Homo sapiens: one gene and its partners. The protein of the gene in region 4 purifies or fractionates together with the protein of the main gene of each other region. This does not show direct contact. Each region holds a gene or a part of one and is shown on either strand. Other genes may lie near its edges.

Region 1 (2,766 bases), on a different chromosome or scaffold from region 4:
TCAGACTGGCAGATTTAATAAACATCATGTAAATGTTAACTTAACTTGGAGTGAACAGCCTTCAGTTTACATTCCAAAAGTGATTAGATGAAAGGATAATACACAATGATATTTATGCCTAGAGCAGTTCAAAATTTAGAAAAGGAATTAGTGATCTTCAGTTAAGCTATTTTTTTTAATAAATTGAAAAGATGTTCTGTACAACATAATAGAGTCATAGGAAATCAAAAGCATATCAGTAACAACTTTTAGAAAAAGAAATGAATGATGAAAAACAGATATGACCTCTCAATATCTTGGGGAAGTAAGTTAGGATGATGTTTCATTCACGTCTTAATGATATAAATAAAGGATAACTCTGTGTAAGAAGTAGTGTTTGTATCTGGTGGTAAATTTAGTTAAAAACATAATCACAAGTTACAAAAACTGTAATTACAAATTACAAAGAAAAACAGGCAGACAATCTTGTATTGACATCCTCTTGCATCTTGTTACCTACCAATGTTCTGTTCCATTATAAAATTCAATACTAAAATTTCATAGCTAACATTCAATATTAATTTCAACATTAAAATGTATCAAAATCATTAAAAACAGTCAATTAGAAAAAGCAATACACCAAAAATAATGGTAGTGTTTCCAGGCTTCAACTGTGTTGTATTAACCATCACACAGGAGAATAAAAGGGCTGTGAATTTTAGATAGGCCACTTGGCTCTGGATTCCAGGACTATGGAAATGCCAGTGAAGGTAGTCCAAGAAGCATTTCTTGTTTTATAATATCAGCAGAGGACCAAAAAAAGGGATCCCAGATATGTTTTCAAGTAACAAAAAACATTAAAGTGCAATTTTGTCTTTTACATCTGAACAAAAGTTCTGTCATTTTTAAAAAATAAAGTAGGGCCACAGCTTTATAGTCATTTTCTCATCTAAAACCCCACAATTATTAACACAGATCAAACTGCAGTTTTGGAAGAGAGCCTTTGGACGGGGAAACTACTGAACAGTGATGAATGGCCATACCTAATTCATTGTTTGGAAATTGATGTGGAGGACTGTGTTTCACCGAGGGAGAAAGGGACCTCCCAGAGGCTCTGAGGCTGCAGATCTTCAGCCAGGTGACAGCACTGCACCTGCTGTGTGCACCCTGATGGCAACAGCAGGGAAGTCCACAGTCACGATGATAGAGACAGCCACAGCTGCCAATCAGAAGACTCACTCTTTCTGGTTTTCATGGACTGCGTTTTGCACATCGAGCTCACTGTTTAGAGCTGTCCTAGCACTCTTCTTTTTTTGAGACTTTTGACTCATTTTCTTTGCGTAACTTTCTCTGTTGATAGATGCGTATGGCTATGGCAGTGATGCAAAGCAAAATAAATATCTCCACTGCTATCACACCTAGGGAGAGAAAAGAATAAAACATCATAATTTTTTTTCTTTTTTCTTTTTAGAGAGAGGGTCTCACTCTGTCGCCCACGCTGGAGTGCAGTGGCATGATCACAGCTAACTGTAGCCTTGATCCTCCCAAGTAGCTGAGACTATAGGCCCACTCCACCGTTCAGCTTATTTTTTTTTTTCTTTTTACAATTATTCTTTGTAGAGATGGGGTGTTGCTATGTTGCCCAGGCTGGTCTCGAACTCCTGGGCTAAAGTGATCCTCTCACCTTGGCCTCCCAAATTGTTGGGATTACAGGTGTGAGTTACCGTGCCTGGCCTCAATGTCAGAGTATAAATGGTGACTTTTGGTCCAATCAGAGGCTTTGCAGACATCATTGCTTTTTAAGTTTGGTTAAAATAAACCAACCACCTATTATATTATAAATTGAAAACACCAAAACTCAGAAATGCTGAGGTCAAGTAATTTTATAACATTTAACATACTTCTGACGGACTATGACTTTTGGATATGGCTGTGTTAGGCTTTTTCCCTACAGGTATATGATGATTGGGTTTTAGATAATGCTTTCAGATTTAAAAGAATAGAGACATACATGTCTCTAAGACCGCGTACATCCTTCAGTTAACAAGTGGGAAATTTTAAATCATTTTACAAGTATAGAGTGTTTGCATCATCATAGATCATTACATGTTATTGTTAGTACAATGAAATGGGTACATTTTAATGAAATTGTTTTCAAATACTTTTATGATAATACACTTTTCTTTTTTTTCTGAGACGGAGTCTTGCTCTGTCGCCCAGTCTGGAGTGCAGTGGTGCGATCTCGGCTCACTGCAAGCTCCGCCTCCCAGGTTCACGCCATTCTCCTGCCTCAGGCTCCTGAGTAGCTGGGACTACAGGCGCGCGCCACAGCGCCCGGCTAACTTTTTGCATTTTTAGTAGAGACGGGGTTTCACCGTGTTAGCTAGGATGGTCTCGATCTCCTGACCTCATGATCCGTCCGCCTCGGCCTCCCAAAGTGCTGGGATTACAGGCGTGAGCCAACGCGCCCGGCCGATAATATACTTTTCAAACGCAGTAGGGTCGCATATATGTAATCAATCCCTATTACCAAAAATATTGCAGGCATATTTATTCATTTTTTTTTTACCTGGAATGTGGATTATTTGAAAGACCTGGGCAAAATGTTTTAAAATATTGAAACCATTAGCAGTGTCCATGATTCTCGACTCTAGCTGCACACTAAGTCAGTAAATCAGAATAAATGAATGGAAGGCCTGGATACCAGTATCTTTATAAATTGTTTCAGGCTTTAATTCAGAGCCAGAGTGCTAAAGCATGAAGCCATGCCACAGAATGCTGTGTACT
Region 2 (3,258 bases), on a different chromosome or scaffold from region 4:
AAAAATTATTCTTAATCTAATCTGATAATCAGATATTTTACATATCATATTGTGATTATTTTTAAATATGGAAGCACTGTTTTCATAAACTCTTAAATTGTTAGTAAAGAGGTAGCCTACATTTGTTATAAAATGTAAAGAGAAGATGAAAATGGACTTTTCTTCCAGTTTTACAGCTGTTCTCTTCCGTTGATCCCCACTGGCTCTTCTTTCATTTCAGCCTCTTGGTTCTTTCTTAAAAGAAAACCATGTCTTTTTCCCCTTAGTCCAGAGGTAGACATAGCTGAACAGAAAGCTTAGACATTCCCATTTAGTGTATTTGCTTCTTTGTGAGATTAATTTGTTTCTCTTTCTCTTTCCCTCTTCTCTAGTGTGGATTCTTTAAACGCTCTAGGTACGATGACAGTGTTCCCCGATACCATGCTGTAAGGATCCGGAAAGAAGAGCGAGAGATCAAAGATGAAAAGTATATTGATAACCTTGAAAAAAAACAGTGGATCACAAAGTGGAACGAAAATGAAAGCTACTCATAGCGGGGGCCTAAAAAAAAAAAGCTTCACAGTACCCAAACTGCTTTTTCCAACTCAGAAATTCAATTTGGATTTAAAAGCCTGCTCAATCCCTGAGGACTGATTTCAGAGTGACTACACACAGTACGAACCTACAGTTTTAACTGTGGATATTGTTACGTAGCCTAAGGCTCCTGTTTTGCACAGCCAAATTTAAAACTGTTGGAATGGATTTTTCTTTAACTGCCGTAATTTAACTTTCTGGGTTGCCTTTATTTTTGGCGTGGCTGACTTACATCATGTGTTGGGGAAGGGCCTGCCCAGTTGCACTCAGGTGACATCCTCCAGATAGTGTAGCTGAGGAGGCACCTACACTCACCTGCACTAACAGAGTGGCCGTCCTAACCTCGGGCCTGCTGCGCAGACGTCCATCACGTTAGCTGTCCCACATCACAAGACTATGCCATTGGGGTAGTTGTGTTTCAACGGAAAGTGCTGTCTTAAACTAAATGTGCAATAGAAGGTGATGTTGCCATCCTACCGTCTTTTCCTGTTTCCTAGCTGTGTGAATACCTGCTCACGTCAAATGCATACAAGTTTCATTCTCCCTTTCACTAAAACACACAGGTGCAACAGACTTGAATGCTAGTTATACTTATTTGTATATGGTATTTATTTTTTCTTTTCTTTACAAACCATTTTGTTATTGACTAACAGGCCAAAGAGTCTCCAGTTTACCCTTCAGGTTGGTTTAATCAATCAGAATTAGAGCATGGGAGGTCATCACTTTGACCTAAATTATTTACTGCAAAAAGAAAATCTTTATAAATGTACCAGAGAGAGTTGTTTTAATAACTTATCTATAAACTATAACCTCTCCTTCATGACAGCCTCCACCCCACAACCCAAAAGGTTTAAGAAATAGAATTATAACTGTAAAGATGTTTATTTCAGGCATTGGATATTTTTTACTTTAGAAGCCTGCATAATGTTTCTGGATTTCATACTGTAACATTCAGGAATTCTTGGAGAAAATGGGTTTATTCACTGAACTCTAGTGCGGTTTACTCACTGCTGCAAATACTGTATATTCAGGACTTGAAAGAAATGGTGAATGCCTATGGTGGATCCAAACTGATCCAGTATAAGACTACTGAATCTGCTACCAAAACAGTTAATCAGTGAGTCGATGTTCTATTTTTTGTTTTGTTTCCTCCCCTATCTGTATTCCCAAAAATTACTTTGGGGCTAATTTAACAAGAACTTTAAATTGTGTTTTAATTGTAAAAATGGCAGGGGGTGGAATTATTACTCTATACATTCAACAGAGACTGAATAGATATGAAAGCTGATTTTTTTTAATTACCATGCTTCACAATGTTAAGTTATATGGGGAGCAACAGCAAACAGGTGCTAATTTGTTTTGGATATAGTATAAGCAGTGTCTGTGTTTTGAAAGAATAGAACACAGTTTGTAGTGCCACTGTTGTTTTGGGGGGGCTTTTTTCTTTTCGGAAATCTTAAACCTTAAGATACTAAGGACGTTGTTTTGGTTGTACTTTGGAATTCTTAGTCACAAAATATATTTTGTTTACAAAAATTTCTGTAAAACAGGTTATAACAGTGTTTAAAGTCTCAGTTTCTTGCTTGGGGAACTTGTGTCCCTAATGTGTTTAGATTGCTAGATTGCTAAGGAGCTGATACTTTGACAGTGTTTTTAGACCTGTGTTACTAAAAAAAAGATGAATGTCCTGAAAAGGGTGTTGGGAGGGTGGTTCAACAAAGAAACAAAGATGTTATGGTGTTTAGATTTATGGTTGTTAAAAATGTCATCTCAAGTCAAGTCACTGGTCTGTTTGCATTTGATACATTTTTGTACTAACTAGCATTGTAAAATTATTTCATGATTAGAAATTACCTGTGGATATTTGTATAAAAGTGTGAAATAAATTTTTTATAAAAGTGTTCATTGTTTCGTAACACAGCATTGTATATGTGAAGCAAACTCTAAAATTATAAATGACAACCTGAATTATCTATTTCATCAAACCAAAGTTCAGTGTTTTTATTTTTGGTGTCTCATGTAATCTCAGATCAGCCAAAGATACTAGTGCCAAAGCAATGGGATTCGGGGTTTTTTTCTGTTTTCGCTCTATGTAGGTGATCCTCAAGTCTTTCATTTTCCTTCTTTATGATTAAAAGAAACCTACAGGTATTTAACAACCTACAAATTGGGAGTTGTCTTTGGACTGAATCCTCCTCTTCACTGCCTGTCCTTGTAAGGATAGGGAATTGCTTAGCAATGATAACCTGGCATTAAAAAAAATTCTGACAGCTAAGCTGCTTCCTTCTTAGAATATGTTTTGGATGTGGGAGCAGGCTAGCTGTGACGTGTGTGGCAGAATCAACTAGTCAGAAAATATTTTCTTCAGCAAAAGAAAGATTTTAGATTTGAGTTTTATGAAACTTCTCTAGCTGGATTATCACAACCTAATACAAGAAAATAAAATATATAAATATATAAATATATATAAATATAAATATATAAATATATATAAATATATATATACATATATACGTATATACACACACACACACACACACACACACACATATATATATATAAAATGCCTAGACAATATAGTGTGCCCTGGCCTGAATAAATGTCTGTCTAATATATTAGGTAATAGCTCTCCACTATACTTGGCATTACATAAAATCTTGGCCTTCTTGGTTCTTTGAAGATCAA
Region 3 (3,571 bases), on a different chromosome or scaffold from region 4:
GCAGGGTCTTGGCTCACTACAACCTCTGCCTCCTGGGTTCAAACGATTCTCCTGCCTCAGCCTCCCTAGTAAGTGGGATTACAGGCATCCACCACCATGTCTGGCTAATTTTTGTATTTTTAGTAGAGATGGGGTTTCACCACGTTGGCCAGGCTGGTTTTAATTCCTGACCTCAGGTGATCCACCCGCCTCGGCCTCCCAAAGTGCTGGGATTACAGATGTCAGCCACCGCGCCCGGCCTCCTTCTGAGATTTTATAAATATTTTTACTTCCCTGGGTGATTGTGTAAATTATATTGACTTCCTCACTTAAAGCAATAATAAAGCTCTTCCTCCTGTCAATTTAATTTGCCACAATTCACCAAATCTTCACAAGGGTTCAATGGATCAACAAACACAGACTGAAAATTCAGTAAGCCAACCATTTCCATAGGAAGAATGTGGAAAATAAAGTAAGTAGGATTTTCCTTCAGTTCTTGGTATACACCATTACTTGCTCTTTCCTCCCAAAACACCTACCATCTCTTATGCCACTCACCATGAAATCTCTGCAGCAGGTATTCCATAAGAGAAGTCAGTGGTAGGACTAGGAGAGCCAAAGCAAAGGCTACATTGAAATTCAGAAATCCATTAATTAAATAGAAATACCAGGGTTCTGTACCTGAGGGAGACATAAAGGTAAGAAATCATTAGTGGATGCCTTTAACACCTATTACGGTGCTTGACATATAATGTTCTTTGTTGGAATAACACTGATGATCCTATGCCTCATGGGAATGAGAGTGCACAGCCCACTCTTCCCATGCTAAGCTACACAAAAGAAGCACAAGAGCGAGATGGAAGAGAATGGGATTGGTCATGAGGATTTAGGGAGAAATCAAGTTTCAAATAGTTAGCTGTATTTTCTATACTGACCACTATATCTAGCCCAAATTGCTATGCCCCAATGGAACTAATACTTTTGAGAAGCACCAAATAATTTAAATCGCTTTAGAGCCACATAGGGCTAAAATAATAAAACTGCCATTTCAATTTAACTATTCTCTCAAGATCGCGCAGACCAAAGGAAAGAGTGATAAAAAAACTTAGTTGGTGGCTGGGTGTGGTGGCTCATGCCTGTAATCCCAGCTACTAGGAAGGCTGAGATGGGAGGATTGCTTGAGCCCAGGAGGTTAAGGCTGCAGTGGGCTGTGGTCGTGCCGCTGCACTCCAGCCTGGGCGACACAGTGAGACCCTGTCTCAAATAAAAATAAAAATAAGGAACTTAGTTTGAGCTATTCAGGCATCTCCCATTTTGTTTTCATCTGCTTGTCCCATTTACATTCTAGCATCTTTCCCCTTGATATGCTCAACCACTTATAGTCGCGTACATTGGGCAACATGTGTTTGGTATAAAGCAACAACCCGTTTTTCTTAGATCATGTTCAGAGGCCCAGGCCTTGCTGAGAAGCTTTAAGGATTCAGAATGAAGCAAAATCACTAAAAACACAAGTCTTACTCACACTATTTTTTATTCTTTAACTCAAAATCCTTACACCCAAATGATGAGAAACAGACCCCCTCTGCACATTTAGCAGGTTTTTCATCTGCTTTTCCCCTCTGTATGATTACTTCAATCAAGAAGTGAATGACACATGCGGGTTTTAATCACTGTGTGTTGTGACACCCGCCTTGCACCATAGCAATTTCCTGCAATCAGCATTGCTTAAAAGGGTAATCAGAAGGCAGAGGAATAGTCAGAAAAACCTGACATTCTTGCAGCTTGCACAGCAAAATAAGATTAGAAACCAAACCCATAATGCTAGAAACATTTAGGGGAGAAGTAAGAGGGAGGGAGGTTACACTAAGGAAAAGTTCAAGTTCAACTGTGCGTCACCTTTGGGGGAAGCTCACTCCTTCCTGTCTCAATACAATGATAGAGAATATTCATGAACAGAGGTCCTATTCCAGGCCCAGTTCATTAGGGACATTTTAATCTTGTATTCTTTACAAATATGCATTTGGGTTATAGAAAACTAACGGATGGTTTTATTTTCAAATCAAAAATGTCTTTTCTGAATCTTAATTAGAATTTAACAACATTATTTTTTAAACTGAGTCCTTTAGGATCCAATTTCCAGAGAGGTAAGCTTTTGCACAATCCTCTCCTGACCACCAGTGCGGAAGCAGGGCTAGCAACCTCTGACTCACCTTTTTCTTAACAGGATTCTGGAAATCTGAGCTTGTGAAGAAAAACCATAGAGTGACCAGACAGAAAAGGGGTTATCCTTTCTATTATCTATTACAGATGTCAAGCACCAATAGGAAAAAGCCACTTGTCTCTTTCATATTTGCAAATACAGACTGTTTTTTTCAGGAAAGCACTTTAGCTTCCAGAAAATATTTGTCTCTAACACAATTTACTATACCCTCCTGTTACAGCTATCTTTTTATCTAGGTATACTGTACTCTGAGATGAGGAAACAAAAGTATTAAGCTGGTAAATGCAATCATTTTTATGTATTCAGAGCTCATAAATCAAGTTTCCAACTAGGCTGTGAACATTTCATAACAGACTGTTATTTCCCTGAAAGATGGGGCAAAAATTGGGGGATAAGCCAAAAGTGAAGAAGGTTCAAGTGTCAACAGTCTTAAAAACAAGGGCAAAAGGGAACAAAAAGAGTGACTTCTATCAGCCAGAGTCCTCCCCTGCTTGATGACACATCTGCCTTAGGAAAGCAAAGGGTATAAACTTTTATCTCTTTTCAGGGAGATATTCAATGCTGCTGCTCAGAAAACATCAGAGCTGAACTATGCAAAAAACCATGTCAGAATGACAAGCTAAACGCTGAACTGGTGCAAGATGTTTAGGTGAAGGAAAGCTGGCAGCAGGGTCTCTGCAGGGAGTGACTCACCCATCCTCCTCTTTATGGAAAGTGCCTCAAGTCCTTTCAATCAAATGAGCTAAGGGAAGCTTTCAAAGAAGCTAAAAGAAGGGATAATGTTTACTGCTCCATAGATTGAATGAAGGAGAACTACTTCCCAAAGTTATAATTTTATAGACCTGTAGGAACTAAATCATAGTAAGACATCCTTATAAATGTCAAATTTGTACCACCGAGAGGGAAAAGCCACTAAGTTCAAGAGAAATGATTAACAAAAGAGCAAAGGCTCTAGAACAGTTCTGGCTGGCAGTGAATTCTAAGCAGGACTGATAAGACCCCACTGGGGCTTCTTCCTCTGCCACTGCAATTATGGAAACCTGTGGGCCTCCCAACAGAGGGCATTTGCGGGTATCGTCTGAAACTTTCCATCCAGTGATCAGACAGATGTTGATAAAACACATAAACAGGCAATGGGATCCTGTCCTAAGCTGCAAAGTGGCAACCTGAGCAGATTCACTGTTCTTTCTGAGGCAAGAGTATTTCCTGTAAGTGTATTCCCATGCCTTCTCCAGGCCTGTGCACTCCTCAGCAGAGAGCACCACTCTTCACTCACCAGACAAAAATACTTGCCAGCATCAACATCTGAGAACTTGAAATGTTATGAGGGGCAAAATCAGTGACAAGACCAATCACTTTCTTTTCTGCAAC
Region 4 (3,090 bases):
CTTCTTTTTTACAAGCTGTTTTCTCAGTATTTTTCTTGGATGGGATGACGCTAGGCTGGAAAGTTTTTTTCATCACTATGATTTTATAAAACAATTTTTTCTATGAACCTTTACTTACTTGACTGGATTGGACTAAAAGCACTGATCAGAGGCCACGACATAAAAATTCAGTCCCTTTGTCCTTCCCCGTGCCTCCCAAAGTTACTTTAAGATCCTTAGAATATTTCTTTAAATATTTTATAGACAAAAAATTTAAAGACTATCTGTATTGCAAAATTAAACTATTTCTTTAATGAATATATTGCTTATTTTAAGTTCCAAAGGTGAAGTCTTTAAGAATAAAACATTACCAACTCCTGCTTTTATATGTAAGCAAACTTGATTGTGGCCTTTTTCAACTCATCTTCCTTCTAAGGTTTTCTGTTAGCCTCTAAGTAGACTCAGTGAAGGCTAAGGGACTGCTATATGATGAACAGTATTTTGATGCATACATTTAATACATACTTCTTCAGAACTTTTTCACTGTTATGATTTTATTGCCATTTTGCTTTTTTAGATGTGTGCAGCAGACTAAAACATTAATGAGATAATTGATTTTTGTCCCATAACATTACAAAGCTGATTCGACTAAGCCCCAGAAGAAAACAGCCAGGGTGCTATAGTCACCTTAGCTTAGCATCTTGGCTTCTTTGTATCTGTAGTTGTTGGAACATTGAAGAGACGCTTCAAGAAATACAGTTGCAGGATCCCAGAAAGAATAATAACAAGGCTCTGGGCTGTCGACCACCAGTTCACGTAGTTATAGTTTGATTGGATAAGGAAAAAGTCAGCCATTTTCCTCATCCGGGCAAAGTTGTAGTATCGCCACATGTGAAAGATATTGTTCTGCACCTTTTGTGTGCCGTCCTATGAGAGAGACAATTTTAAGGGGGATTCTTCCAAACCCCCATCTAGCCTCACCTGAGCGCTCACTAGCACTAACCTATCTCAAGTCAAATAATTTACCCATATGATTTTAAGATGTACAATACAATGATAGTTGTTAAATGTTGTGTTTGCTATGTATGAAATATGGTCTGGATTTGAGTTTAAAATTTTTGTTTTTGTTTTATGAGACAGGGTCTCACTTGTTTGCCCAGGCAGGAGTACAGTGGCGCAGTCACAGCTCACTGCAGCCTCAACCTTCTGCGCTCAAGTGATCTTCCCACCTCAGCCTCCCTAGTAGCTGGGACTACAGGCACATGCCACTACACCCAGCTAATTTTTTTTTTTTTTTATTGTAGAGACAGGGTTTTGCCATGTTGCCCAGGCTCATCTCGAACTACTGGGCTCAAGAGATCCACCCACACTGGCCTCCCAAAGTGTTGGGATTATGGTCATGAGCCACTGCCCCGGCCTTTTGTTTTGTTTTTAAATAATGGAAAACTTCAGTACTCAAACTAGAGAGCTCTTCCAGAGGACCTCTAGATTTAGATGTACTCAGCATGTCGTTACCATTCCAGGTGATGTTTTATGTTCTCTGTATATGGTAGAAGACAAGGGCCTGTGGACTTTTTATTAAAAGGCCAGATGGTAAATATTTTTGGCTTTGCAGGCCCCTGTGACTGCTGAACTCTTGCCATTGTAGTACAAAAGCAGCCACAGACAATATGTAATTGTCAAATGAGCATGGCTGTGTTTCAAGAAAACTTCCATTTACAAAAACAGGCAGTGAGCTTTTGTGCATTTAGGAGAGACTATTAAGAAAGTGAAAAGTGGCCGGGTGCAGTGGCTCATACCTGTAATCCCAGCACTTTGGGAGGCCGAGACGGGCGGATTACCTGAGATCAGGAGTTTAAGATCAGCCTGGCCAACATGGTGAAACACCGTCTCTACTAAAAATACAAAAATTAGCCAGGTGTGGTGGCACACGCCTGTAATCCCAGCTACTCGGGAGGCTGAGGCAGGAGAACTGCTTGAGCCCGGGAGGCAGAGGTTGCAGGGAGCTGAGATCGTGCCACTGTACTCCAGCCTGGCCGACAGCACAAGACTTTGTCTCAACAAAAAAAAAAGAAAAAAAGAAAGTGAAAAGTGGCCGGGCACGGTGGCTCGTTCCTGTAATCTTAGCACTTTGGGAGGCCAAGGTGGGCAGATCACCTGAAGTCAGGAGTTCAAGACCAGCCTGGCCAACATAGTGATACCCCATCTCTACTAAAAATACAAAAATTAGCCAGGCGTGGTGGCACCCGCCTGTAATCCCAGCTACTTGGGAGACTGAAGCATAAGAATCACTTGAACCCGGGAGGCGGAGGTTGCAGTGAGCCAAAATTGTGCCACTGCATTCCAGCCTAGGTGACAAAGCGAGACTCTGTCTCAAAAAAATATAAATAAATAAATAAATAAAAATACAAAAGTTAGCTGGGCATTGTGGCACACGCCTGTAGTCCCAGCTACTCAGGAGGCCGAGGCAGGAGAATCGCTTGAACCTAGGAGGCAAAGGTTGCAGTGAGCCAAGATCACGCCACTGCACTCCAGCCTGGGAGACAGAATGAAACTCCGTCTCAAAAAAGAAAAAAGAAAGTGAAAAGACATTGCCAGAATGGGAGAAAATATCTGCAACTCACATATCTTAGGAGGGATTTGTATCCAGAATATATAAACAAAATTCAACAATAAAAAGACAATTCAGGCAGGGTGCGGTGGCTCACGCCTGTATTCCCAGCACTTTGAGAGGCTGAGCTGGACAGATCACAAGGTCAGGAGTTCAAGACCAGCCTGACCAACATGGTGAAACCCCCGTCTCTACTAAAAATACAAAATGTAGGTGGGCGTGGTGGCACGTGGCTGTAATGCCACCTACTCAGGAGGCTGAGGCAGGTGAATCACTTGAACCCAGGAGGCAAAGGTTGCAGTGAGCCGAGATCACACCACTGCACTCCAGCCTGGACGACAGACTGACTCTCTCAAAAAAAAAAAAAAAAAAAAAAAAAAAAGTAAAATGGGCAAAGGATTTTCATTTTTTTGAGATAGGGTCTCACTGTCACAGCCTTGACATCCTGGGTTCAAGCAATTCTACCTAAGCCTCCCGAGTGGCTGGGACCACAAGTATGT

The links. The genes of interacting proteins can lie anywhere in the genome.
Region 1: the proteins of TMED6 (region 4) and CNTNAP3B purify together in Homo sapiens (affinity purification with mass spectrometry; one large-scale study listed by BioGRID and IntAct). This does not show direct contact.
Region 2: the proteins of TMED6 (region 4) and ITGA6 purify together in Homo sapiens (affinity purification with mass spectrometry; 2 studies listed by BioGRID and IntAct, with this or other methods). This does not show direct contact.
Region 3: the proteins of TMED6 (region 4) and ALG9 purify together in Homo sapiens (affinity purification with mass spectrometry; 2 studies listed by BioGRID and IntAct, with this or other methods). This does not show direct contact.

The regions. Positions count from the first base shown.
Region 1 is NC_000009.12:41,892,714-41,895,479, forward strand, and holds part of CNTNAP3B (contactin-associated protein-like 3B precursor), read right to left. Parts: intron 1,398-2,766; coding exon 1,276-1,397; 3' UTR 1-1,275.
Region 2 is NC_000002.12:172,503,720-172,506,977, forward strand, and holds the end of ITGA6 (integrin alpha-6 isoform b preproprotein), read left to right. Parts: exon of another isoform or gene 1-371; coding exon of another isoform or gene 372-533; 3' UTR 534-2,740; downstream 2,741-3,258. UniProt on the Homo sapiens protein: Integrin alpha-6/beta-1 (ITGA6:ITGB1) is a receptor for laminin on platelets. Integrin alpha-6/beta-1 (ITGA6:ITGB1) is present in oocytes and is involved in sperm-egg fusion.
Region 3 is NC_000011.10:111,844,064-111,847,634, forward strand, and holds part of ALG9 (alpha-1,2-mannosyltransferase ALG9), read right to left. Parts: intron 661-3,571; coding exon 538-660; intron 1-537. UniProt on the Homo sapiens protein: Mannosyltransferase that operates in the biosynthetic pathway of dolichol-linked oligosaccharides, the glycan precursors employed in protein asparagine (N)-glycosylation.
Region 4 is NC_000016.10:69,342,735-69,345,824, forward strand, and holds the end of TMED6 (transmembrane emp24 domain-containing protein 6 precursor), read right to left. Parts: intron 907-3,090; coding exon 673-906; 3' UTR 516-672; downstream 1-515.